Linked DNA regions of Homo sapiens. The protein of the gene in region 4 purifies or fractionates together with the protein of the main gene of each other region. This does not show direct contact. Each region holds a gene or a part of one and is shown on either strand. Other genes may lie near its edges.

What was found.
Region 1: the proteins of CNBP (region 4) and PUM3 purify together in Homo sapiens (affinity purification with mass spectrometry; 2 studies listed by BioGRID and IntAct, with this or other methods). This does not show direct contact.
Region 2: the proteins of CNBP (region 4) and RSL1D1 purify together in Homo sapiens (affinity purification with mass spectrometry; 2 studies listed by BioGRID and IntAct, with this or other methods). This does not show direct contact.
Region 3: the proteins of CNBP (region 4) and GNL2 purify together in Homo sapiens (affinity purification with mass spectrometry; 2 studies listed by BioGRID and IntAct, with this or other methods). This does not show direct contact.
Region 5: the proteins of CNBP (region 4) and ZC3HAV1 purify together in Homo sapiens (affinity purification with mass spectrometry; 2 studies listed by BioGRID and IntAct, with this or other methods). This does not show direct contact.
Region 6: the proteins of CNBP (region 4) and BRIX1 purify together in Homo sapiens (affinity purification with mass spectrometry; 3 studies listed by BioGRID and IntAct, with this or other methods). This does not show direct contact.
Region 7: the proteins of CNBP (region 4) and TRIM56 purify together in Homo sapiens (co-immunoprecipitation; 3 studies listed by BioGRID and IntAct, with this or other methods). This does not show direct contact.

Annotation. Positions count from the first base shown.
Region 1 is NC_000009.12:2,820,096-2,823,595, reverse strand, and holds part of PUM3 (pumilio homolog 3), read left to right. Parts: intron 1-3,497; coding exon 3,498-3,500. UniProt on the Homo sapiens protein: Inhibits the poly(ADP-ribosyl)ation activity of PARP1 and the degradation of PARP1 by CASP3 following genotoxic stress. Binds to double-stranded RNA or DNA without sequence specificity. Involved in development of the eye and of primordial germ cells.
Region 2 is NC_000016.10:11,848,743-11,852,864, forward strand, and holds the start of RSL1D1 (ribosomal L1 domain-containing protein 1), read right to left. Parts: upstream 2,801-4,122; 5' UTR 2,771-2,800; coding exon 2,666-2,770; intron 1,677-2,665; coding exon 1,537-1,676; intron 1-1,536. UniProt on the Homo sapiens protein: Regulates cellular senescence through inhibition of PTEN translation. Acts as a pro-apoptotic regulator in response to DNA damage.
Region 3 is NC_000001.11:37,569,127-37,571,937, forward strand, and holds part of GNL2 (nucleolar GTP-binding protein 2), read right to left. Parts: intron 177-2,811; coding exon 1-176. UniProt on the Homo sapiens protein: GTPase that associates with pre-60S ribosomal subunits in the nucleolus and is required for their nuclear export and maturation.
Region 4 is NC_000003.12:129,177,397-129,180,896, forward strand, and holds part of CNBP (CCHC-type zinc finger nucleic acid binding protein), read right to left. Parts: intron 1-3,500. UniProt on the Homo sapiens protein: Single-stranded DNA-binding protein that preferentially binds to the sterol regulatory element (SRE) sequence 5'-GTGCGGTG-3', and thereby mediates transcriptional repression. Has a role as transactivator of the Myc promoter.
Region 5 is NC_000007.14:139,071,721-139,075,220, forward strand, and holds part of ZC3HAV1 (zinc finger CCCH-type antiviral protein 1), read right to left. Parts: intron 2,311-3,500; coding exon 2,136-2,310; intron 1-2,135.
Region 6 is NC_000005.10:34,922,211-34,925,710, reverse strand, and holds part of BRIX1 (ribosome biogenesis protein BRX1 homolog), read right to left. Parts: intron 3,495-3,500; coding exon 3,424-3,494; intron 3,173-3,423; coding exon 3,123-3,172; intron 3,017-3,122; coding exon 2,943-3,016; intron 2,711-2,942; coding exon 2,660-2,710; intron 2,579-2,659; coding exon 2,477-2,578; intron 865-2,476; coding exon 736-864; intron 486-735; coding exon 216-485; 3' UTR 1-215. UniProt on the Homo sapiens protein: Required for biogenesis of the 60S ribosomal subunit.
Region 7 is NC_000007.14:101,084,130-101,088,280, reverse strand, and holds the start of TRIM56 (E3 ubiquitin-protein ligase TRIM56), read right to left. Parts: upstream 2,801-4,151; 5' UTR 2,710-2,800; intron 1,276-2,709; 5' UTR 1,113-1,275; intron 970-1,112; 5' UTR 969-969; coding exon 1-968.

The DNA.
Region 1 (3,500 bases), on a different chromosome or scaffold from region 4:
ATTCTTTTCTCCTTTTTTAATTTAACATTGTATTGTGATAGTTCTCTACTTTTATTAGATATTCTTTGAAAACCTGATATTTACTAGCTTTTTTGGTGAATTTGTCCAGTCATGTTAATTAAATATGGGAATTACTGCCTGGATACAGTATGTACATATTTTAGTCTCTGGGTAAATGATGCCAGATTGCACTTCAGAAACTTGATAGTAGTTTTCCTTATGACCAAAACCATAAAAGAAATTAAAATGTATCTTTTTTTTAAGAATAAATTTGCAGTGTGGTTATGGAAATTTTTAGTTGTTAAATTTTATAGCTCTTTAGAAATGCAGTAACAATTTTCCTAATGAAATTCATAGGTACAAAAGTTTTTTCTGGGGGATTTGTTGCTTCAAAAATAGTGTTTATATGTTTTTAGTTATTAAATAATTTTTCATGCTGTTGCTATGGTGTACTGTAACTAGAATATATGTAGTGAATACAATTTTAATTTTTGAGTTATACTTTATATATTTGATGGATAACAAATTTCTAATTTATTGATGAACTAAAATTATGTAGTAATCAACTACTTTATCCTTTGAAAACATCCAGTGAGAACTACTAGCATCTGGGGAATACTTCAACTTGTTTGAAATACTAAATCAAACAAGTTAAAATTAATGCTGTGTGATTGTGTACTTGACTATTGTCTTCTGTTGGGCTAGAAATTAGAAGAATTCAGAAGGCAGCTAACGTTCCTATAATAAAGTGAAATATGGAATTCTCATATTTTTTATAATTCATAATTCAATATTCATATATATTTCATAATTCATAATTATAATATGAATTATAATGTTATATATTATATAACATTATATTATTATGTTATAAATATAAATATAATTCATAATTATAATTCATAATTCAATATTAAGTAAATTTTTTTGCGTGACATTCTAATTTGAATACCTTACATTAAAATGAGTAAAAACTAGAATGTTAATAGAAAATTCACAAAGGTATTAAGAGTATAACATTTTAAAATAATAAAATTATATTGTTTTAGTTCTACAGTTTGTTTATGTCAGGTAATTTAACACTAAGTACATATCTTTTTAAATCTCGAAGAGTTACTTCTAAAGGGGTGATAAGCTAACGTTACCCATGGATTTGATCCATGGATTATTTGGAATTATTAATTTCCAAATATTGGGGGTTTCTGGATATATTCTATATTCTTTTGTTCCTTTTAAATTTACTGAGACCTGTTTTATGGCCTAACATATGGTCTAAGTATTTTGAAAATAATATATTGTAGAGTTGTTTGGTGGGGTATTCTATATTTGTCAATTAGATCAAAGTAGTTGACAGTGTTCATACCATCAGTGTTTTTACTGACTTATTATTTTCTAGTTCTATCAGTTGCTGAGAGAAACATGTTAAAATTTCCAACTATACTTGTGGATTTGTCTGTTTCTCACTTACATTCAATTCTGTACCACCTTCTGTTGTATTCACCTAGAAATATTTTATGCTTGGTTATGCTTATGTGTGTCCGAGTTAAGAGAACTGAAACCAGTGATTTTGTACTAGGCACGTTGTTCTATATTTTGTCTCCTTCACTTAATTCATATTATGGGTCATTTTATTTCAATATACATACATCTGTCTACCTCACTTTTCTTAGTGACTGTAATATTTCATCGTGTGCCTATACCATAATTTATTTAACCAGTCCCCACTGTTGGGCATTTTGGTAGTTTCTAGAGTTTTTAAAATTACAATTAGTACCCCAGTGAATATATTCATATGTAAGTCTTTGTACTTACATGGAAACACGTCTGCAAGATAAATCCCTAGAACTAGAATCACTGGATCAGCTCATACCTGCATTTTAAATTTGTATAGGTGTTGTCAATTGCTCTTCAAAGAAGTTGAACCACTTTACATTCTCATCAACATAAAAGCGTGCCTGCTTTTCCCTAAACCTTTGATAAATTAGTCTATTGTCAGAGGTTTTCACCATCACCCATAGGATAAATGGCATTTCATTGTTTTAATTATTGTCCTTAATTAGTTCATAAAGCATTATTTCATACATTTAAAGACATTTGTACTTCTGTTTTAGTGTGATCTGACTCTTCATGTTCTTTTTTTTTTTTTTTTTTTGAGACAGAGTCTTGCTCTGTCGCCCAGGCTGGAGTGCCGTGGCGCGATCTGGGCTCACTGCAAGCTCCGCCTCCCAGGTTCACGCCATTCTCCTGCCTCAGCCTCCTGAGTAGCTGGGACTACAGGCGCCCACCACCATGCCCAGCTAATGTTTTGTATTAGTAGTAGAGATGGGGTTTCACCCTGTTAGCCAGGATGGTCTCGATCTCCTGACCTCGTGATCCACCAGCCTCAGCTTTCCAAAGTGCTGGGATTACAGGCGTGAGCTACCGCACCTGGCTTTGCCCATTTTTAGTTGGTTGTTGGTCTTTGTATAGTAAGACCTTTGTTGTTTGTCTTCAGTTTGTCTTTTTGACTTTACAGTTAGCAACTTCGTTATTGTTTCTAATTGAAATTGTATTATCTGTGATATTTATCAGATCTGGCTCTGAATGATTGTGGGCTATTATCAAAAATCAAATTCCTATCAGAGTTTGAAACAATTATATCAACATCCAGGATACTCATGCCACAAGCTCTGGAAACAGGTTTTTGTTTTCTTTTGTTTTTGTTCTTAACATAAAGTAGGTGTTCTTTAAATGTTTGGAACAGTATTAGCATCATGGAAATAATTTTATTTCAAAAGATGAGTGTTGTGAAAGCCACATGTGTATTTCTGTGATCTCATGCAGCTATACTTTTTTTAAAGTAATGATTTTTATATCATTCTCATTCAGTGTATAATTATACTCTTCTAGTTTATTTTTTCATATTTATATTCTAATTTTGTGAGATCACTTTAAAGAAATTGAGCAATATAGAAAAGAAAATTAAAAATCATTTGTATAACCCAGAGATGACTATTACAATGCCTTGCCTTCCAGGATTTTCTGTGTACATGTATTATGTATATCGTGTGTGTGTGTGTATGTGTGTAAAATTGTATGAGTTTATATTTTCTTTTTCATGATTGGAGTATCATATATGTGTTTATATATGTAGGTTTTTTGAAGTTAATCTTATAACTTGAACTTTTAAGTATAATTTTCAAGTAGCTATTCATTAACAGTAACCTATGTAAATAGGTATTAGTTTTAGACTATTTGGTAATGAATAATGTGCTTTAAAAAAAAATCAACCTTACCTCTAGAATATAATTAATGAGGTCGTGATAAGAGAGGAAGTTCATTAAAATGGCTTTTATTCATCTTGTTATGTTAGACAAGTTGTCAATGTAGGTAATCTTTTTTTTTTTTTTTTTTTGAGCGGAGTCTCGCTCTACCTTTATGAAGATATTCCATGTGTGAAATAAGAGGGAAGATCTATGCACTTGTTTTTAACCTTTGCTGGCTTCCAATTCTTGCAGGGC
Region 2 (4,122 bases), on a different chromosome or scaffold from region 4:
CTCAGCCTCCCAAACTGCTGAGATTACAGTGTGAGCCACCACACTCAGCCAACATAACTTTTTTTTTTTTTTTTGAGATGGGAGTCTCACTGTCGCCCAGGCTGGAGTCTCTGCAACCTCTGCCTCCTGGGTTCAAATGATTCTTGCACTTCAGCCTCCCAAACAGCTGGGATTACAGACGCCCACCATCATGTCTGGCTAATTTTTGTATTTTTAGGAGACATGGGATTTCGCCATGTTGGGTCAGGATGATCTCAAACTCCCAGGCCTCAAATGATCCACCCACCTCACCTCCCAAAGTGCTGAGATTACAGGGATGAGTCACCATGCCCAGCATAACATAACTTTTAAGAATTGAAACAGCCCAGGCATGGAGGCTCATGCCTGTAATCCCAACACTTTGGGAGACTGAGAGGGAGGACTGCTTGAGCCTGAGTTCGAGACCAGCCTGGAGAACACAGTGAAACCTCATCTCCACAAAGATTTCAAAATTAGCTAGGCATGGTGGTGTGCACCTGTAGTCCCAGCTACTTGGAAGGCTGAGGTGGGAGGATCACTTGAGTCAGGTCAGGGAGGTTGAGGTTGCAGTGAACACAGATCTCACTATTGTACTCCAGCTGGGCAACAGCGCAAGATCTCGTCTCTTAAAAAAAAAAAAAAAAGGAGAGATAAAAGAATCGAAACCAAAAACATGGACTAAACCAAGAGGGACCAGCAAACACAATTATGCCACATCTTACAGAAAATAAAATACAAGGGTTTAACTCATTTCTTATGCTTACAACCTATGTTCTGAAGAAGCATTCTGTATAATCACCATGGATTTCTTTTCCATAGACAGAAATTCACTGCAGTTTTTAATAGTCTCTGTACAAAGGAATAAATTGTAGCCCCAAAGAATTTTTGCTTGACATGGAAAGATAACAGTTTCTAATAAAAAAATAAAATAAAATAAAGCTGTTTAACTTATTCCACCTTTATTCTTTCGAACACCACGTTTTCGATTCAACAGACCTGATTACGTTAGCTGTCCACCAAGCTCTAAGAAAACTGGTGAAATTTCTAGAAAATTTTAGCACATCTGAATTTCTACGGTTCTTTTATTTTTTATTATTTTTTATTTTTTTGAGACAGAGTCTTGCTCTGTCGCCTAGGCTGGAGTGCAATGGAGACATCTCCGCTCACTGCCACTCTCCTGCCTCAGCCTCCCGAGTAGCTGAGATTACAGGCACCCGCCATCATGCCTGGCTAATTTTTGTATTTTTGGAGAGACAGGGTTTTACCATGTTGGCCAGGCTGGTTTTGAACTCCCGACCTCAGGTGATCCGTCCACCTCGGCCTCCCAAAGTGCTGGGATTACAGGTGTGAGCCACCACATCAAGCCTCTATGGTTCTTTTGGACATAGTTGTTTTACTTCACGTCAGATTTTTATTATAAGTTTGCAAAGTTTCCATTAGTAACCATGATGCAATTGTTCGAGTTACAAAGAATAAACACACAGATAAAAACAGCAAAGGTAGAAAATCACAACTTACAATCTGACCCTCAGTTCTTTACTTGGAATTTTCCATAATACCACCATTAAAAATAAACTTTCATTCTCATTCAAAAGCAACCCATAATTGTTTTTCCTGGACTTGCAATGCGTCAAGAGAGCGTCCACTGCCTTTCTAACCTGCAAAGTGGAAATTAGACAAATAAGTGAAATGTTTTCACAATAACTTACACAAATAAATGAAATGTTCTCAATCTAATTTAGCATTTGCCCCCTCCCACACCTTCTATTTTTTCCCTTCCAACTTCTATTTCAAGGGGTAACCTCCATAACCGTATCTATTAGGATCCTGCAGTTTATATTCACAGAAATCTAAGAATCCATCAAACATGCCTAAGTACCCACTTCCAGTACTGTGTGCAGAAGGGCACCTCTTCTACTTAAAGAGATTGGGCTAGAGGGAAACGTGCCCCTCCTGCCCTCAATGATGAAAGCAGTAATCCCAGGAAAAACGCAAAGCAAAATGCATTTAGCATTTACTGAGAACTCCTGGCAATTCTCCTGCCTCAGCTTCCCGAGTAGCTGAGATTACAGGCGCCCGCCACCACGCCCACCTAATTTTTGTATTTTTAGTAGAGACGGGGTTTCACCATGTTGGCCAGGCTGGTATCGAACTCCTGACCTCAGGTGATCCACCCGCCTCGGCCTCCAAAAGTGCTGGGATTACAGGCGTGAGCCACCGCGCCCGGCCTACTGAGCACCTTCTTACCATGTACCAGGCCAAAGCGCTTTACACTCATTACCTCTCCCGATCCTGGATAACGGGGAGCCGAAGGGCCCACTTTAAATAACGGGTAACAGACCTGCAAAACTAAGCGATTCGGTCAAGCGCTAATGATAGGGAAGCTAAGCCAGGTCGCCAGGTCTATCTCATCTAGCTCCACAGCACACTTGCAACCCAATTCACTAGCGCCAGGCCGCAGGACCAGGGAAAGCAGGCGCCCACCCACGTGTGTAAAGGGGAGAGACAGCTGAGGCACACGGCCCGCCAGCGACCGTCCCACAGCCCCGGGGAAGTCCGCCGAGCACGCACTCGGGTTCCGGCACCCTGCGCCTCACGAGGTAACCGCCACACTGCTTCCAAGCCACCCTCCCCAGGAACCACTCACCTGTTCTTTATCCAGCTGCTTCCGTGCTGTCGGGGCCGCTGGAGTCGAGGTGGAGGTTCCAGTAGCGGCTGCAGAAGACAGCGAGGCCGAGGCCGAATCCTCCATCTTGTTTCCACCTCGTGAAGAGGCGCGTGTGCAACCCCACTGCTGGCTTCTGGTGCGCACGCGCGAGCAAGCCCGGCCCCGGAAGCGAGGGGGCGGGAACCGAGCCTCTGTGCGTCATTTCCGGGAGAGCGTGGGGTTTCGCTCTCCGGGGCAGTGGCTGCTGTCAGAATCCCTTCTTTGAGGAGGCACCTGCTCTTCCGCTTTTCTCCAGCTTTCCATGAGCTGTGGGGAGTAGCTTGGGTGTCCTCTCACTCTTACTAGATAGAAATCAAGAAAGCGCCTTGAGGCGAGAGAAGAGTCCCGTCAGGAGGCCCAGTGGGGTCCTCCACACTCCACGGTCCCCGCCTCCGGGAAGGCCGCGCGTGGCATGGGCAGAGCGCGGAATCCTGGCTCCACTGCCCACCTGCCCGTTGACTTTAGGCGACGCCAACCCCAGGCTGGTGAGGAGTCCCTGAAATATAAGGCACGGGAGCCACCCGGAGCCACCCGACCTGCCACGTTAAGCAGCATGAGGGACCGAAAGATGAGTCTGGGCCAGTCTCTTAGGAGCTTCTGGTCTCGCAGAGAGGCGGGAGGTAAGATCCTGTACAAATAAGCGTGGCTGGTCGTGCGCGTGGCTGGCGTCTGGAATCCCAGCGCTCTGGGAGGCCGAGGCGGAGGGATTCCAGGAGTTGGAGACCAGTCCGTGCATATACGAGACTCCGTCTCTCCAAAAATTATAAACATTAGCCGGCGTGGTGGTGCGCGCCTGTAGTCCCGGCTACTTGGGAGGCGGAGGATGGAGGATCTTGAGGAATTCGAGGCTCGGTGAGTTCTGATCCGCGCCACTGCACTCCAGCGTAGGCAGTAGAGTGAGACCTTGTCGCTAAACAAACAGGTTAGGAGTGGAGGCTGGATAACTGACAAATGGAATACCTTAGAACAGGGGAGTCCAATCTTTTGGCTTCCGTGGGCCACACTGGAAGAAGAATTGCCTGGGCCCATATATAAAACTAATACTAATGATAGCCGACGAGCTTTAAAAAAAAAATCTAAAAAAAATCTCGTAATGCTTTAAGGAAGTTTACGAATTCGTGTTGGGCTGTATTCAAAGCCTGGCCTCCAGGGCCGCACGCGGCCCTTGGGTAGGACAGGTTTGCTTTGTAATGTCTTCCTCCCACTCCACCCGCCTCCCCAGAGGTACCCTTACCAGTGTCTCCTGGAACCTTCCAGAGATGTTCTAGGCATGTTTAGGAGATACTTCTCCTTTCTCTTGTTGGATGGGTTTAATTAATTTTTTTCCTTTTTTTTTTTTTTTTTTTTGTAATGGAGTCTCGCTCTGTCGCACAGGCTGGAGTGCAGTGGCACGATCT
Region 3 (2,811 bases), on a different chromosome or scaffold from region 4:
TGCCGAACTCGTGTGAGAATCTGCTGCATCTCTGTGTTAGCATCACAGTGACTGTTCTCTTCTGTTTCTTCCTTAATGATGGATTCTGACCCTTCACCTGCAGTTTCTGTGACTTCCTCCCCTGGATTGTTCTGGGCTGCTTCTGGGACAACTTCCAAAGATGAGGAGGGTAGAAGCTATTAAGGGGTGGAAATGGGGGAAATAAATAGAATCAGAAAATGAAAAATGGAATTTCTGAACTCATATCTTGCTCTTAAACAGTCCTCTTCTCAGGACTAAGGGAAGGTATTGAAAACACCCAAATTTGAGTCATTTCATTAATGTATTTTTAAACCAATGTACATTAAGCCCAGAGATCAGTACTAGGATCAAAGGAATACATGTGTAGTTCCACAGGATGAACCAACTAAGACTATTTAAACCATTAAAACCAACCAATGATTTATCATAGAAAAGCAAGGCTCCCTAGACCTTCCCTAGGGGGCTGCTGATATAAGCACATGCAAAATCAGCACACACAACTACATAAAAATGAAGGCCAGGCTGGATGTTACAGATGAGAACAGTACTAAGAGAGGCATTTGAGGAGGTCCTCTGATTTAAATGTGTCCCCCAAAATTCATATGTTGGAAACTGGTATGGTTTGGCTGTGTCCAAATCTCATCTTGATTTGTAGCTCCCATAATCCCCATGTGTTGTGGGAAGGACCGGGTGGGAGGTAATTGAATTATGGGGGCAGGTCTTTCCCATGCCGCTCCTATGATGAATTAAGTCTCACGAGAGCTGATGGTTTTATAAAGGGCAGTTTCCCTGGACACACACTCTTGCCTGATGCCATGTAAGACATGCCTTTGTTCCTCCTTCACCTTCCGCCATGATTGTGAAACCTCCCCAGCCATGTGGAACTGTGAGTCCATTAAACCTCTTTTTCTTTATAAACTAACCAGTCTCATGTATTTCTTCATAGCAGTATGAAAATGGACTGATACAGAAACTTAATCCCCAATGCAGCAAGTGTTGGTAGGTAAGGCCTAATAAGAGGTAATTAGATCATGAGGGCTCCATCCCCATGAATGGACTAATGGATCTCGGGGATGGGTTCGTTTTTAAGAGTGAGTCTGTTGGCCGGATGTGGTGGCTCACGTCTGTAATCCCAGCACTTTGGGAGGCCAAGGTGGGCAGATCACAAGGTCAGGAGTTCAAGACCAGCTTGGCCAACATGGTGAAACCCCATCTCTACTAAAAATACAAAAATTAGCTGGGCCTGGTGGCATATGCCTGTAGTCCCAGCTACTCAGGAGGCTGAGGCAGGAGAATCACTTGAACCCAGGAAGCAGAGGTTGCAATGAGCCGAGATCGTGCCACTGCACTCCAGCCTGGGCAACAGAGCAAGACTCCGTCTCAAAAAAAAAAAAAAAAAGAGTGAGTTTGTTATAAAAGCAAGTTTGACCCTCTCTTGCTTGCTCTTGTCCTCCCACTTTCCACGATGGGATGACCCTTGTCAGATGCTGGTGCCTTGATACTGGACTTCCCAGCCTCCAGAAACATGAGCCAAAACAATTTCTGTTCATTATAATTACCCAATCTGTAGTATTCTGTTGCATCATCACAAAACAGACTAAGATAGGAGGCATCCTGAAGCAAGAGTATAAGGTAAGGAGGGGGAATTCTGTGATTGAAGAGAGTTCATTAGAGAACTAAGTCTGGGGACCCTGAAATGACTGGCCTGTTTTAGGTAACCGCAAAGATAAGTATGTGCCAAGCTTTCTACTGGTGTTTCACATGTATAATATCATTTTATCCTTGCAACAAAAACTCAGAGAACTTAAAAGTGATGTTCTAAAGTCAAGAGTGGCCGGGCAAATCACTAAATAAGTACAGAACTATAAAATTCAGGAAACCACACACAAAATTTATACATACATTTTTCTAGGAAGGGCAATTTTTGGCTTTCAGTTTCTGAAGGGGTTTCTGCTCTTAACCAAAAAAGAAAAACAGAATCACAGAGTAAGGCATATGAGAGTGAAACTGCCTCCAAAGGGTTGACAAGAAGTATCTGCCAAGTTCTGGACAGAAATACAATTATAATTAAGCACTAATTAGGGGGCACTTTGGCCCATATCCTTGTTGCTAAAAGTTCCTGAACACTAGGTACTGACCATTTGCATCCCCACTGTCCCTATAGATAGGATTTCTGACATTTGGGTCATAAGACTATGTAAGAATTGATATGCACCCCCATTGTTCCTATAGGCAAGATCTCTGACATTAGAATCATAAGGTTTTTGTTTAAGGATTGCTTAAAATGTCTTTTCAGATCCCTAATTCCAGCAACCAGTTTGAAGATCCCCAGAGAAACGGGATCTGCATGAGAACACAGCTTCTTCATCTCCCTGTCCGTGACTTCACCCTGCACTCTTCACCCAACCAATGACCCTCACTCCAGCCCACTCCAAAACCCTTAAAACCCTAACCCCAAACTCCTCGTGGAAATGATTTCAGGATTCCTCCCATCTCCTCCTTTGGTGACCCTACGGTTAAACTTCTTTCTCTGCTGCAACCTGGTGGTGTCTCAGCATATTGACTTGCTGTGTGCATTGGGCAACAAATCTATTATGGTTACAATAGTTCTTAAGAATTATCTGAACTACTTATCTACACTTACTGACTACATACGGAGGAAGGGCTGAAGACAATGCCAGTGTTTCCACACAGGGTCCCAAGACAGCAGTGATACGGACATCCAGAATGACCCTAGAATCCAGCTGCTAACTCAAAACCTCCAATGGCTTCCCACCATGACACCCTCTC
Region 4 (3,500 bases):
CTCAAAGACATCTGACTACCCATCTGTGTCTTATTTGTAAAAGGGAAATAATAAAACTGATGTGTGTGGTAAGAATTGTTACCTTGTGCTTAATAGATATTCAATTTAAAAACCAAAGTTTTGGTCTTCTGAGTACATATTCCTTCCACTTTCGCCAATTACCTTGGATTGCTTACAGAGAGTAGACAGAACTCAGTCCAATGTCTATTACATAGCAGGTTTAGAGTGAGGCTAACTGCTTATACTTGTTTCCCACCTTACAGTCTATTTCCTGAATGGAATGGAGAAGAGATTAAGAGGAGAAACACCGGTGATTTCCAAATCAGTTCACATTTTCAACCACCAGACATCAAGATATTTGTCCTAAGTTTCCATTTTTGTGTATCAAATGTTTATGACACAAACCACTTTAAAGGGTGGTAGGAGCACAGGGCATGTCAGGCAAGAGAAGAAATGACTAAGATAGTCAAGATAAGGTCTGGGCCGGGCGGGGTGGCCCACACCTCTAATCCCAGCATTTTGGGAGGCCGAGGCAGATGCATCACCTGAGGTCAGGAGTTCGAGACCAGCTAGCCAACATGGTGAAACCCTGTCTCTACTAAAAATACAAAAATTAGCTGGACATGGTGGTGCATGCCTGTAATCCCAGCTACTCAGGAGGCTGACGCACAAGAATTGCTTGAACCCAGGAGGCAGAGGTTGCAGTGAGCCAAGATCGCACCACTGCACTCCAGCCTGGGCAACAGAGCAAGACTCTGTCTCAAAAAAAAAAAAAAAAAAAAATAAGGTCTGACAAGACTTAAGATTTACTGTGAGGAGCCATGTATGCTAAACTAAGAGGTGTAACTATTTTACACATTTTGAACTTATCTTGGAATTAAAGAAACCACAAATGGTTAGTATACTAATTTGTCTTCCTTAATGTCAGTACTTGTACCATACTATTGATACTAAAAACAAATATAGTAAACTACTAAAATCTAACAGTATGTGGTCAAGACTAACAACTAGGGTTCTAATAAATAGAATGTTCATAACTCTGTCCTAGAAAATACATTTAAAATAAAGTAGCAACAGGCAAGTTGGAGATAAAAATGACACTAGCAAAGTAGGGTATGATTCTGGCTATCTTTATTATTTTATATGGTTTTCTAACACAGCTGTACACATTCACATTTGTATATATGCTTACTTTTCGCAAGCTCAGGGTTATCCCTGACTCATTCATGTTGTTCACTTAACTGCATTTAGACCATACTGGAGCTTTTGCCCTCTGAATGTATGTAAGTATGCACATTATTATGCTCCGTTAAGTCAGTTTACTGTCCCAACATGGTACTGAAACACTTCAGATTTTTTTTTTTTTTGAGACGGAGTCTTGCTTCGCCCAGGCTGGAGTGCAGTGGCACGATCTCGGCTCACTGCAAGCTCCACCTCCCAGGTTCACCCCATTCTCCTGCCTCAACCTCTCGAGTAGCTGGGACTACAGGTGCCCACCACGACGCCTGGCTACTTTTTTTTTGTATTTTTAGTAGAGACGGGGGTTTCACCGTGTTAGCCAGGATGGCCCAGATTCTTTTAATAAAAACGAACTATGGGGGCCGGGTGTGCTGGCTCACACCTGTAATCCCAGCACTTTGGGAGGCAGAGGTGGGTGGATCACCAAAGGTCGGGAGCTCAGGACCAGCCTGACCAACATGGAGAAATCCCGTCTCTACTAAAAACACAAAATTGGCCGGGTGTGGTGGCCCGTGCCTGTAGTTCCAAATACTCAGGAGGCTGAGGCAGGAGAATCGCTTGAACCCGGGAGGCAGAGGTTGCGGTGAGCCGAGATCATGCCATCGCACTCCAGCCTGGGCAACAAGAGCGAAACTCCACCTCAAAGGAAAAAAAGAAGAAAAAAAAAGCAATGAAAGGAAGCAATATACTTTCTGTATTACCTGCATTCCAGCCAGAATAATGGAAAACAGAGTACTTACTCGGGAGCAATTCTGTATTTTTATCCTGGTTCCTGAACTTACTGCTTGACCTTGGTTAATTACATCCATTTCCGCCTGCCCTGATTACTTCTTGAAGAGTTTTAACAGCTGGATATCTATGAGTCAGTCATTAGTAAACATATCTATAATCTTACAACCTCACGAGTTATGTATTCTTGCTCCATTTTAATGACAAACTAAACATCTGACACTGGCCAGGGGCAGTGGCTCATGCCTGTAATCCCAGCACTTTGGGAGGCTGAGGAGGGAAGATCACTTGAGGTCGGCAGCCTGGCCAACATAGTGACACCCCATCTCTACTAAATATACAAAAATTAACTGGGCGTGGTGGTGCATGAGGCAAGAGAATCGCTTGAACCCAGGAGGTGGAGGCTGCAGTGAGCCGAGATCATGCCATTTGCACTCCAGTGTGGGTGACAAAGCGAGACTCCGTCTCCAAAAAAAACTAAAAAAACAAAAATTAGCCGGGCGTGGTGGCACACGCCTATAGTCCCAGCTACTCAGGAGGCTGAGGCAGGAGAATGGCTTAAACCCAGGAGGCAGAGGTTGCAGTGAGCTGAGATCCTGCCATTGCACTCCCGCCTGGGCGACAGAGCAAGACTTTGTCTCCAAAAAAAAAAGAAAAGGAAAAAAAAAGTTAAGTGGTAAAGTACACAAAAATGCTATCGTAATATATGACAAAAATGCTATTGTGTAATATTTTTAAGGTAGGGAATTATACCAATTCAATCTCTACTTCAAAATATTACATAAAGGTATTACTACTATATATCTAGTAACTAAGAAAAAAAAAAGCCACGCACATTTGAATTGTAATGCTGTAAGTATTCATTCTGTATTTCTCTTTAGATAAAAATCAAAGTAAAACTAATACTGATAGCTTTTTAAAAGATCTACAGTCATAATAATTTTGAATTCATTCACACAGCTTTCTTGAATCTTAAAAAATATTTTCTTTAACTTCATGGCAGAACTTAGGAGTCTCACCAAACACACAAACACTGGCAACTTGCTTCACTAGTTAACACCTCATTTGTATTTATGGAGCCATTCCAGGTGATCACTGTAGCACTCTCATATTCCTAATTAACAAAATCCTTCTAATTACAACTTAAAATTTGGTGGCCTCAAGTTCTCACTTTATTATCTCAGTAGTTTTAAACATGAAAATGCTGCATAGCTTACTGCAATCACTCAATGGCATTCCCTTGCTGCTGCAGCATCTGACACTGCCAGAACAGGAGTTCTATTAAGTGAGACAGTAAGGAAAGAGCGTTCTCCACATAGCAGGCCAGGATGCCTTGGCATCATTCTTCTGGCTCTCTACTTACTGTCAGGAGGCTAGGAAGAGAAAAAGGAACCAATCTTTTTTTTTTTTTTTAATTTTTCATCCCTGCAAGGAAAAAAAAGCAGAATCTCTCTGTGGTCAAATCTTCAGCCAATAGACAAATCATTCCAATTAGTCCAATGGTGGTTTCACTGCTTTTAGGCACCAGTTTG
Region 5 (3,500 bases), on a different chromosome or scaffold from region 4:
GAAGAGCAACAAGGAGGGGTCCAGGAGACAGCTCTGAGCCCATATCCTATTCCACCAGGGCAGCCCTGCTCTACTCTAGTTGGCTCGTTTAGAGTCTTTGAAAGATGGTTTGATAAAATGTATCTGCTGCTAAGACAGTTTGGAAACCAATATGCTGCTGAATTCATGGTAGGGCTGTTTGTGGTTGAGGACCTCACCACAGCACACAGGGTTCCCGCCATGTGGCCCACTATAGGAGGTGTTTTTCTCAGGCCTCACTAACATAACAGAGTAGTGCCTCTCCCAAGTATTTTGTTTGCTTTGGCAGTTAGGCAGCTCAGAGCCAAATGTATAGCCCACTGACTCGTAATTATTAGTTCCGTGCAAAAGTAATCAGTTTTTGCCATTAAAAGTAATTACCACCAACCCAAAAGTAATTTTACACCAACCTAAATATGTAGAACCTTACGCTGCCATTCCTTTGTCCCTGCATTATCTTTTTTTTTTTGGAATCTCACTTTTGTCACCCAGACTGGAGTGCAGTGGTGCAATCTCGGCTCACTGCAACCTCTGCCTGCAGGTTCAAGCGATTCTCCTGCCTCAGACTCCTGAGTAGCTGGGATTACAAGCACGCGCCACCACACCCAGCTAATTTTTTGTATTTTTAGTAGAGACAGGGTTTCACCATGTTGGCCGGGCTGGTCTCGAACTCCTGACTTCAGGTGATCCACCCCACCTCGGCCTCCCAAAGTGCTGGGATTACAGGAGTGAGCCACCGCACCCAGCCCATGCATTATTTTTGGCTTCATTTTAATCTCTTGCTTTCATTTTCTGTTTCTCATCACCCTGATTCCATTACCTGCTTAAGGTCTGTTTTCTCTCTCTCTTTAATCCTATGAGTTAAAGGGAGGAAGGGACACTGAGACAGAAGGACAGAGGCTCTGCTCACCTAAACTTCCCTCCCTATTACTATGCCCCCACTATGGGTCAGCCTAGGATCTTCTAGTTCCAGTCCTTTAAGTCCATCTAAATCCAGACTCTGAATGAATAGTAGTGACTATCTGTACCAGATGTGGTTTCACTGCTTGAGTGAATTAACACATTCCCTGGTCTAATTAACCATGCCATCATCCATACAGTCCTTTAAGTTCTCACTCTCACCCTCTTTTCCAGCTCAAAGCAGTAGTCTCTGTACATTTTATGTGTTTATACATAGAAAGCTATCTCAAGGTTCCACCCTCCCCTCTCATGGTGAGGAAAGAGGGAAGTGCAGCTGACATGTCTCAAGCGGTTCCTTAAAAATAATTAATATATGGCCGGGCGCAGTGGCTCACGTCTGTAATCTCAACACTTTGGGAGGCCGAGGTGGGCGGATAACCTGAGGTCAGGAGTTCACGACTAGCCTGTCCAACATGTTGAAACCCCATGTCTACTAAAAATACAAAAATTAGCTGGGTGTGGTGGTGGTGCATGCCTGTAATCCCAGCTACTCGGGAGGCTGAGGCAGGAAGATCGCTTGAACCCAGGAGATGGAGGTTGCAGTGAGCCAAGATAACGCCATTGCACTCCAGCATGGGTGATAAGAGTGAAACTCCATCTCAAAAATAAATAAATAAATAAAAATAAAAATTAATATATACTTTAATGTATGACTGCAATTGGAGTACATGTTTGCTGAAAAAAAATTGAATATAGCTGTGTACAAAGTAAAAAAATACCACTTCCTCTACCACACTCCACGGGTAACCATGTAGGCTTCAAACATTTTATTAATAGTGTTCTTTTTATTTTATTTATTTATTTATTTTGGAGACAGAGTCTCAATCCATCCCCCAGGCTGGAATGCAGTGGCGAAATCTCAGCTCACTACAACCTCCACCTCCCGGGTTCAAGAGATTCTCCTGCCTCAGCCTCCAGAGTAGCGGGGATTATAGGCGCCTGCCACCACGCCTGGCTAATTTTTGTATTTTTAATAGAGATGGGGTTTCACCATGTTGGCCAGGCTGGTCTCGAACTCCTGATCTCAGGTGATCCACCTGCCTCAGCCTCCCAAAGTGCTGGGCTTACAGGCATGAGCCACCGTGCCCAGCCAACAGTGTTCTTTTTAAGTTGACAAGTTTAAACAAGAGCCCCCTACAAGGAGGAACAGTGCTCACCTCTTCTCCATACTGAATCCATGTGCCAGATTCATTCTTCCAATACCAAATCCATTTGGTGGTGAAGACAGAATTGGCTGGCTTGGTGACAGAAGAAGGAGTGGAGAGGCGTCGGATGGGAAAGGAATCACAACTCATTACCCGAAAATTGATTGTATAACTTCCTACAGAACAGCTGAGAGAGAAAAGTATTAAGTTAACATAATGCTTCATTGACCCCTGTTTTCTACAATCTCGTCTTCCCTAATGAGAGCACAGAATTAAACTTTCAGGGCTAAAATAGATCTTCAAGTTTTCTTTCCATGGCTCCAGGTCCTACACATAAAAGAAAAACGGAAACGCAGAGAGGAAAGTGACTCGCCTGCACCACATAATTAATGGTGTTACATAATGTATTCTTCCCTCAGAAAATATCCCAAAATAAAACTGTGCCCACAAAACTCCTGATTGGCTCAATGTTATAAAGTAAGTTAGAAATTCGCATTTGGTCCATTTTTAAAATTATTTATTATTATTTAAATCGTTATCAAAATGTGGAGACCCTTGCAGAAAATTGGCAAGGTTAAAGTGATTTTCATAATAACATTAAACATTATTTGCTTTTTTCACTTTCATTCTCTCAGGAATACACGATGAAATTTTCCAGAGGCTACACAATATATGATTTCACAGCAGGTTGAATAAAGAAGCGGATATGAGAATCTAGTTATCTTCTATTATGCCAGACATTAATTTGCAAAAATATAAAACTCCTCTCAATAAATTTTTTGTTTTGGAAAACAGTTATTTTATAATTATCCATATAAATATTATATATAAATATGTAAATAAATACACACAGTTATATACCTGGGTATGTATATTAAATGGATATACATGAATATGTATATAGTATTAAATATAGTTACATGAAACATGTTCATTATGTTAACATATAGCAAGCTTATTCTTATTTTTAAGTGAATCAAATATATAATTGTTCTCAGTTTTAATTTTTAATATGGTAAATATTGATAGCTATATTCCACACAAACAGAAATTCTTTGGGATCCTGAATACATTTTAAGTGTTGAGGAGTCCTCTGACCAAAAAGTTTGAGAATTGCTGCTCTAAGAAAGACCTCTTAGATCAGTGGTTCTCAATCAGGAACGATTTTGACCTCAGTGGGTATTTTACAACATCTGAAGACATTTTGGGTTAGGACAACCAGTGGGGCTGGTGGGGGGGTGGTGCTTCCTGTCATCTGTGGATTGAGGCTAGGAATAGTGCTAAACAGAATCTGGCCCAAAACGTCAGTAGTGCTGAGGTTGAGAAACCCGGCTCTCCACTTGCCTGGGAGCGGAAATATAGACCTAGCAACCAGAA
Region 6 (3,500 bases), on a different chromosome or scaffold from region 4:
AACACAAACTTCAAAAAGAAATCAGAAATTAACTGATGAATTCTGGTGATATTTTATTTAGAAAAAGATAATCACTGATTTTAAGATCTTAATTTTTCTTTCTTGTAAATGCTACACTAATTAGACGTAAGATAGTATTAGATAATAAAAGTATTTACACATTGAATACAAAATAAATATAAAGTAACTGAAAAACAAATCAGGTTTCCATTGACTTATTTTGTTTTCCCACTGTCCATCCTCTGTTTCATTTTTCTTTGCCTTTTGTAAATCCGTTTCTTTCTTGCTTTCAAATCAACTTTTGGCTCTGGTTTTACCCACTGTATTTCTATTGGTTTCTCCTCAGCTGGTGTTACAAAAACATCTGCAGTGGGATCATGTGGAAGAAGAGTCTTCGGCTCTTTCTTTCTCAGTTTTTGCACATCTTTCACTTGCTGTTTCTCTCTGTATTTTGCAGCTGTGATGGATCTTATGACACGCCGATGCTAAAAAAAAAAAAAAAAGATTAGATGCTTTTGAAATAAAAATAAACATTTTATATAAGGCAAAGACTTTCAGTTATGAACCATATATCCTTTCAGCCAGTGTCATGAAAAAAGGGAGTAATTTCCAAGTTTCTATGCAGCAAAAACCAAATTCAGTTTCACAGGTAATAAAACAGCAATTACTTCACAGAATCATTTTGGCCAAAGGGTTCTGGTACATTGAAGACTACTGAATGACACAACCGCTTACCATGTTTGGTGACTGGTAGTGAGGATTTTCATATAAAGTTGGTCCTCCAAAACTTCCCTGGAAAATCTTTATGAGATTTAAGACAAAACGAGGTCCTATTTCTACAAGAGCAGCATCTTCTTCTATGATCTTTAATAAAAAGGAAACATTTCATTTTGGTTTGGTTACGTTATTCCCAAAAGGTATACTGGCTATAACCTCATTATAAATGTGCCTGAAATAATTGATAATCCATAAAATCAAGGTGGGGGTGAAACTTGGTAAATGGCAAATCATCAATATTTTCTGAAATCTATTAGTACTTATAGGAAGTTGTCATGGAAAAATGTTTTTTCAGTGAGTTCTTTTAAAATTGAGTAATTAGATTTTGGTTCACATCTTGCTTGTCACAATGCATATATCCTTGAAAAACTGGTTAAACAGGATTTTAAAACAGTAACCACTATTAACAAAATGTATTAAAGCACATTATGGGGGAACTCTTGAAACTTAAATCAATCCCTAAATTGTTTTTATAAATCTAATTCAAGTTAGATTAAAAGGATATGTAGTCAAATTTATTTAATAGCTACTGATTATGGAATTAAAAGGCAACTTCCGAACAACAAATATTTATGTTATCTATTAGTTCAGGCATGTCTACCCTCAGAGGTTAGGATGATGTGTTCAACTCACATGCCAGGTATCCAATATAAAATATGCAGAAAAGAGCTCAGTTTATGTCATATACTGTCTAAAATTTTGTTCTTGCTGTTCTCTTCCACCTCTTCATCTTTCTGCACTTATCGTGCCAAACTCCTGCTTCAAGATTTCTAGAGTCACCTCCTCTTTTCTCCTGAATGAGTCACTGTGTGACTCATCATCTAACCGCTGCCATTGAATGCCTTCTAGAGCAATTACATTTTGCTAGGTCTTAACCTTTGAGGTGCTTTGAGAGAGAAACTTCTAAGCTTTGAGAGAGAAACTTCTATTTTACTGTATCCTTTACAGCACTTTCTACAAATTAGGAACCCAAGTATCTCATGGATCTTCAAGTTATTCCCTTTCTATAAAGTTAAATATATAATGGCTTATTAGGAAATCCATACTCTGTATCAACTAACAGTCATGAATAGAAGTAGGTAGAGCTCACTTAAGATATAAGACAGTACATAGTTACTTGCAGCAATCTCTTTAGGGAAAAGGAAGCTATTTAAAACAAAAGAATTATTTGCATTTTTTGTGTATGCAAACCCTGTATATCCTTATCTAAAAGTTTAACTAAAAATTGACCAGGCACAGTGGCTCACAACTGCAATCCCACCTACTCAAGATGCTGAGGAGGAATGATTTGAGGCCAGGAGGTTCAAGGCCAACCTAGGCAACACTGCGACACTCTATCTCTAAAAAAAAAAATTAGGCCGGGTGTAGTGGCTCACGCCTGGAATCCCAGCACTTTGGGAGGCCAAGGCGGGCAGATGGCCTGAGGTCAGGAGTTTGAGACCAGCCTGGCCAACATGGCGAAACCCCGTCTCTACTAAAACTACAAAAATTAGCCAGGCGTGATGATGGGTGCTTGTAATCCCAGCTACTCAGGAGACTGAGGGAGCAGAAGCTTGAACCCGGGAGGTGGAGGTTGCAGTGAGCCAAGATTGTGCCACTGCAGTCCAGCCTGGGCAACAAGAGCGAGACTCTGTCTCAAAACATAAATAAATAAACTCAATTAAAAAAAAGGTATAATTAAAAATCAAGTAAAGCTTACCTGAAAGTTCCGAAACCATATCCTATTATCCAAAATGGTGAAAGTAAACACGTGGTCCACAAATGGTTGGCTTTTGGGATGATACCGTGGTGTACTAAAGATCTAGTTAAAAAAGTGTATGTTAGTTCCTTATTCCAAGATATATCATGTATATTTTGGATAGCTAATTTTAAAGATATTTACCTGAATTAAGAGTTCTTTTAACAAAGCATAATGTGGTAATTCATCAAAAGCCTATAAAAATAAGGTAAGCATATTATTTAACAGTAGACTGCCTTGTTTAAAACTGTTTGCTCATTTGTTTCTATAACTTGGCTATAACCTCATTATAAATGTACCTGAAAGAATTGATAATCCATAAAACCAAGGTGGGGGTGAAACTAAATTGAATAACACAACTATATCTACTAAAAACAACCATGCCAGATAAGAAAATTAGACCTCATACACTGAATGAGAAACTTACAGGGTCAAAAGACAAAAGGGGCCGAGAACCTTTCAAACAGTTTCCAGTCATCTTCAGTTCAGCGAGGGTATGAACTAGAAAAATTACAACAAAAACAAAAATAGTTGTAACTTTTGCACAACTATTTCAAAAGATTACTTTTAATTTCCTCATCTAAAAAAATTTATTGAGTCAACTTACTATTTTGAACAAGGAATTTAGCAGATGGTCCGTGAGGTGAATTTGAAAGCCTGAAAGATATGGAGTAAGCTTTTTCAACTAATTAGCAAATGTAGTCAATGCTTACCACCTATTCACCATAAATAATATGCTTATAATATTTATACATTTAATTTTCTTTAAAGGTATCAAGTTTCGTGAAATCAAAAGTTTGCTTCATTCTCAACCCTTAACATGAAACACTAGGAGTCTATAACATAAAAGGTACAAAGAACAAATCCACTTAAATGAGTTTAACCAAAATCTTAATACATTCTCTTACCACATATAGAGATCCTGTTTTTTCTTAGCTTCAAAATAGATGCATTTATTACAGTTCTTCATTTCACAAACCTAAAG
Region 7 (4,151 bases), on a different chromosome or scaffold from region 4:
GAGAGGATCTCGGCCTCTCGCCCCAGGCTGAGTACCCGGCGGGCGAAGGCGGCTGCGGCCCTGGCCACCTGCTCCCGGCCCTCAAGCTCCGCCAGCCTCTCCCGAGCAGCTTCTTCGGCAGCCTCCACGTGGGCTCGTAGCTGCCCCAGCACCTCCTGCTTCTGGGCCAGCAGGGCCCGGAGGACGCCCTCAGCCGCCTCCTCCACCTGAGTCCCCACCCGGGCCGCCTGCTCCCGCAGCCGGGCTAGCGCCTCCTTCTCCACCCTCCGCGCTGCCTCCAGCTCCACCAGGTTATTGTCCACACCGGCCAGCAGTCCCTCCAGGCCCGGCCTCCGGGCACGCACAGCTTCAGCCAGAGGCAGGCAGGGGTGGTCCAGGTGGGGGTCTAGGCGGCACTCTCTGCACAGCAACTGTGAGCAGGGCTGGCACAGGAAGCGCAGTGCCTCCCCGGGGTGCTGGGGACACTGGGCCGCTTGGCGCTCCCGGGCCTCCTCATCATACCACCCGGCCCTGTAGCCCACCAGGTCCACCACGCGGTGGGTGTGGGTCTGGCGGGTGCAGCGGTGCCCGTCGGCACAGGCCTGGCACAAGTCATCGGCACAGTCCAGGCACCGGGCCGTGGCCGGCCCCCCGGTGCTGGTGCCACCCACCAGGGGACACAGGGCACAGGCTGGCTTCCCGGCACGCAGGTCTCCACAGGCCCGGGCCTTCACCAGGTCCAGCAGCCCATTGACGAAGAAGTTGGTCTTGAAGGAGGCCACACCCTCGGGCGGCACAGGCACTGTCTCGCGGCACTCGGGGCAGCGGACGCGGCCGCCATCCGCCAGCTGTGCCAGGCAGTCTTGGCAGTAGGTATGCAGGCAGGGCAGTGTCTTGGGTGCCCGCAGCTGCTCCAGGCAGATTTTACAGGCCAGGAAGTCGCTGCTCAGGGCCTCCAGGAGGGAGGGCGAGGACCCGTGGGAAACCATGCTGCAGGCAGAGGCGTCAGGATCAGAGTTGAGAAGGCACCTTCACCAGCTCACCCTCTAGCTTCTACCGCCCGTCCTCAAGCCCCACGGATCCCCAGGGCTAGGGGCTGACCCAAATGGCCGGGAAGGAACCTGAGGTCTCACCTGAATGGCCAGGAACTTCCTTCTAGTCTTCTGAGGCCTTGGGCCACTTGCTCTTGAGCTAAGGAGCTGCCCTCCTCCTTCTCCTCCTCCTCCTCCACTTCCGTGTGTACATCCAGCAAACGTAAAAATGTCAGTGCTACTTGTTGGGTCAGACCTGTGAGAACTGACAAGACCAGGAGTCCCTGGCCTTAGCTAATAATCGAATCCTCAGTGTCCCCAGTCCACAGGCCTTGTGGCAAACATGGTGGAAGCCCTCCTGTGTGCACAGGTACTGGGGTCCTGCTGTATAGGGTGCCAGGGTGCGAGGAGCAGGCAGTAAGGACACAGACGGGGATCCCAGTGGGCAGAGATGCCTAGGTCCTGCCAGTTGGGGTAGGATCTTGCAGTAGCTTAGGGGGCTTTAATCCTCCAAGCCCCATACACCTGCCTTCTTTTTATTTTATTTTAGTTTTTAGCAATAGGGTCACCCTCTGTCACCCAGGCTGGAGTGCAGTGGCGTGATCGTAGTTCACTGCAGCCTCAAACTCCTAGACTCAAGTCTTTTGAGTAGTTGGGAGTACAGGCATGTGCCACCATGCCCAGCCTTTTTTTTTTTTTTTTTTTTTTTTGAGACAGAGTCTCACTCTGTTGCCCAGGCTGGAGTGCAGTGGTGCGATCTTGGCTCACTGCCACCTCCACCTGCCAGGTTCAAGTGATTCTCCTGCCTCAGCCTCCCGAGTAGCTGTGATTACAGGTGCGCACCATCACACCCGGCTAATTTTTGTATGTTTAGTAGAAATGGAGTTTGGCCCTATTGGCCAGGCTGGTCTTGAACTCCTGACCTCAGGTGATCCGCCCTCCTCGGTCTCCCAAAGTGCTGGGATTATAGGCGTGAGCCACCATGCCCAGGGGCCCAGCCAGCCCATTTTTTAAAAATTATCACTTTTTGTAGAGATGGGGTCTTGCTATGTTGCCCAGGCTGGTCTCCAACTCCTGGCCTCAGGCTATCCTCCCGTCTCGGCCTTCCCAAAGCATTAGGATTACAGGCATGAGCCACCGCACCCGCCTGGCCTTACACCTGTCTTCTGCTAGACCTGGGGCAGCATCGCGGGTGGTGGAGGCCCCACTTTCTGCATTTAACAGTTTCTAAAGCGGATTCTGGAGCGGGCAGAAAAAACGCTAGGGGAAGGGCTGGTCCCCTTCCCGCTGCTGGCTCACCCTCTGATAGACTTGGCCTTGGCTTATCTCCTGGAGTCCTGTTCTTTTAGCTTTTCCTGCTGAATGCATTCCAGAAACCTCTGGAGGGAGGGAGTCCCGAGCTCCTGGCACAGTGGCTGAGACCTACTTGTTGGGCAGACTAGGTGGAATGTCCCCTTTTCTGGAGCTGGGAGGAGACCTCAGAGAGTGGGACGGGGTCTTTCTTGCGGGGACCTGTGGCCACGGAGCGGGAGGGAGGCGAGTGCAGTTTCCCTCCTGCCCTCTCCTCCTGCCTTCCGGGTGCCTCTTCACGCCCTCCCTTTCCTTCCCTTCCTCCTCCTCCCGCGCTCTCTCTCCACTCCCCTCCCCCTACTCCCTCCGCTCGGTCCTTCCTATAGCTGTGCCGCCCCCCACCCCTTACCTAGCCAGAGCTGATCTTGACCTCTAGGATGGTGAGGGGGCCTGAGGCCTGGAGGCCGCCGTTGCTGGGTGCCTGGAAAAGAAACAAAACTGAAACTAATTGTACTTGTGGTGCAACTTCCGTCCCAGCCAGGGACACACCGACTCGCCTCGCACAGCCTCAGGCCCCGCCTTCCTCCCCACCCGGCCCCGTCCTCTCCCGCCAAGGCCCCCACCCCGGCAGGCAGCTGGCAGGCTTGGGCTGGAGTCCACCAGCCAGGTCGGCCTGTCAGTCCAGCCTCAGGGCTAAGTGTGTGTATGTCACAAACAGGGAACTACCTGAGGGCGGGTTCTCTGAGTAGAGGGTGGAGGGTCACAGGGTTTATTTGTGGGAAGAAATGAGAGCTCATCTGTGATTCAGAGACCAGGGTAACTAGACACATGGCCTCAGGGCGGGTCTGCAGATTTGCTAACACCTCAGGCAGGCAGGTGCCTGCAAAGCTTCAAGAGAGGCCTTTCATTCCATAAACCGTTGCTGAGCTGTAGGAGAGGCTGTGGGGGATCAGGTAAGAAGCCTCTTGCTGAGGGAACAGCACAGGCTTCCTGGAGAAGGCATCAATGAGATGAGTTTAAAGAAGGCGGGAGGATTGCTTCAGCCCAGGAGTTCAAGACCAGCTTGGGCAATATGGTGAGACCCAGTCTCCATAAAAAATTCGCTAGCCGTGCATGGTAGCGCATACCTGTAATCCCAGATACTCAGGAGACTGAGGCAGGAGAATCACTTGAACCTGGGAGGTCGAGGCTGCAGTGAGCCATGATGGTGACACTGCACTCCAGCCTGGATGACAGAGCAAGACCCTGTCTAAAAAATAAAACAGTAAGAGGGCATAGAGGGCTGGAGAACACTGAGAAGAATGTTCCTGTTCCAGGTACTGGGAGCAGCAAGGGTACATCCCCATTTAGGATGATGTGTGTGGAGAGGATACGAGAGTGTTGGCAGAGAAGCCTGCATTTTATCAAAAAAGACAAAAGAATCATTGCAGGAGATTTCCCTCAACATTTCATGAAAAAATAATTTTTATTTTGAGACAAAGCCTCGCTCTGTCGCCCAGGCTGGAGTGCAGTGGTGTGATCTTAGCTCACAGCAACCTCCGCTTCCCGGGTTCAAGCGATCCTCCTGCCTCAGCCTCCAAAGTAGCTGGGATTACGGGCACTCACTGCCACGCCCAGCTAATTTTTGTATTTTTAGTAGAGATGGGGTTTCACTATGTTGGCCAGGCTGGTCTCGAACTTCTGACCTCAAGTGATCCACCCACCTTGGCCTCCCAAAGTGCTGGGATTACAGGCGTGAGCCAACATGCACAGCCTCATTTTATGAAAAATTCAAAGCACAAAGAAGTTGAAAGAATTGCGGTGAACACCCATATCTCCACCACTTCTGTTCTACAATTATCATTTTACCGT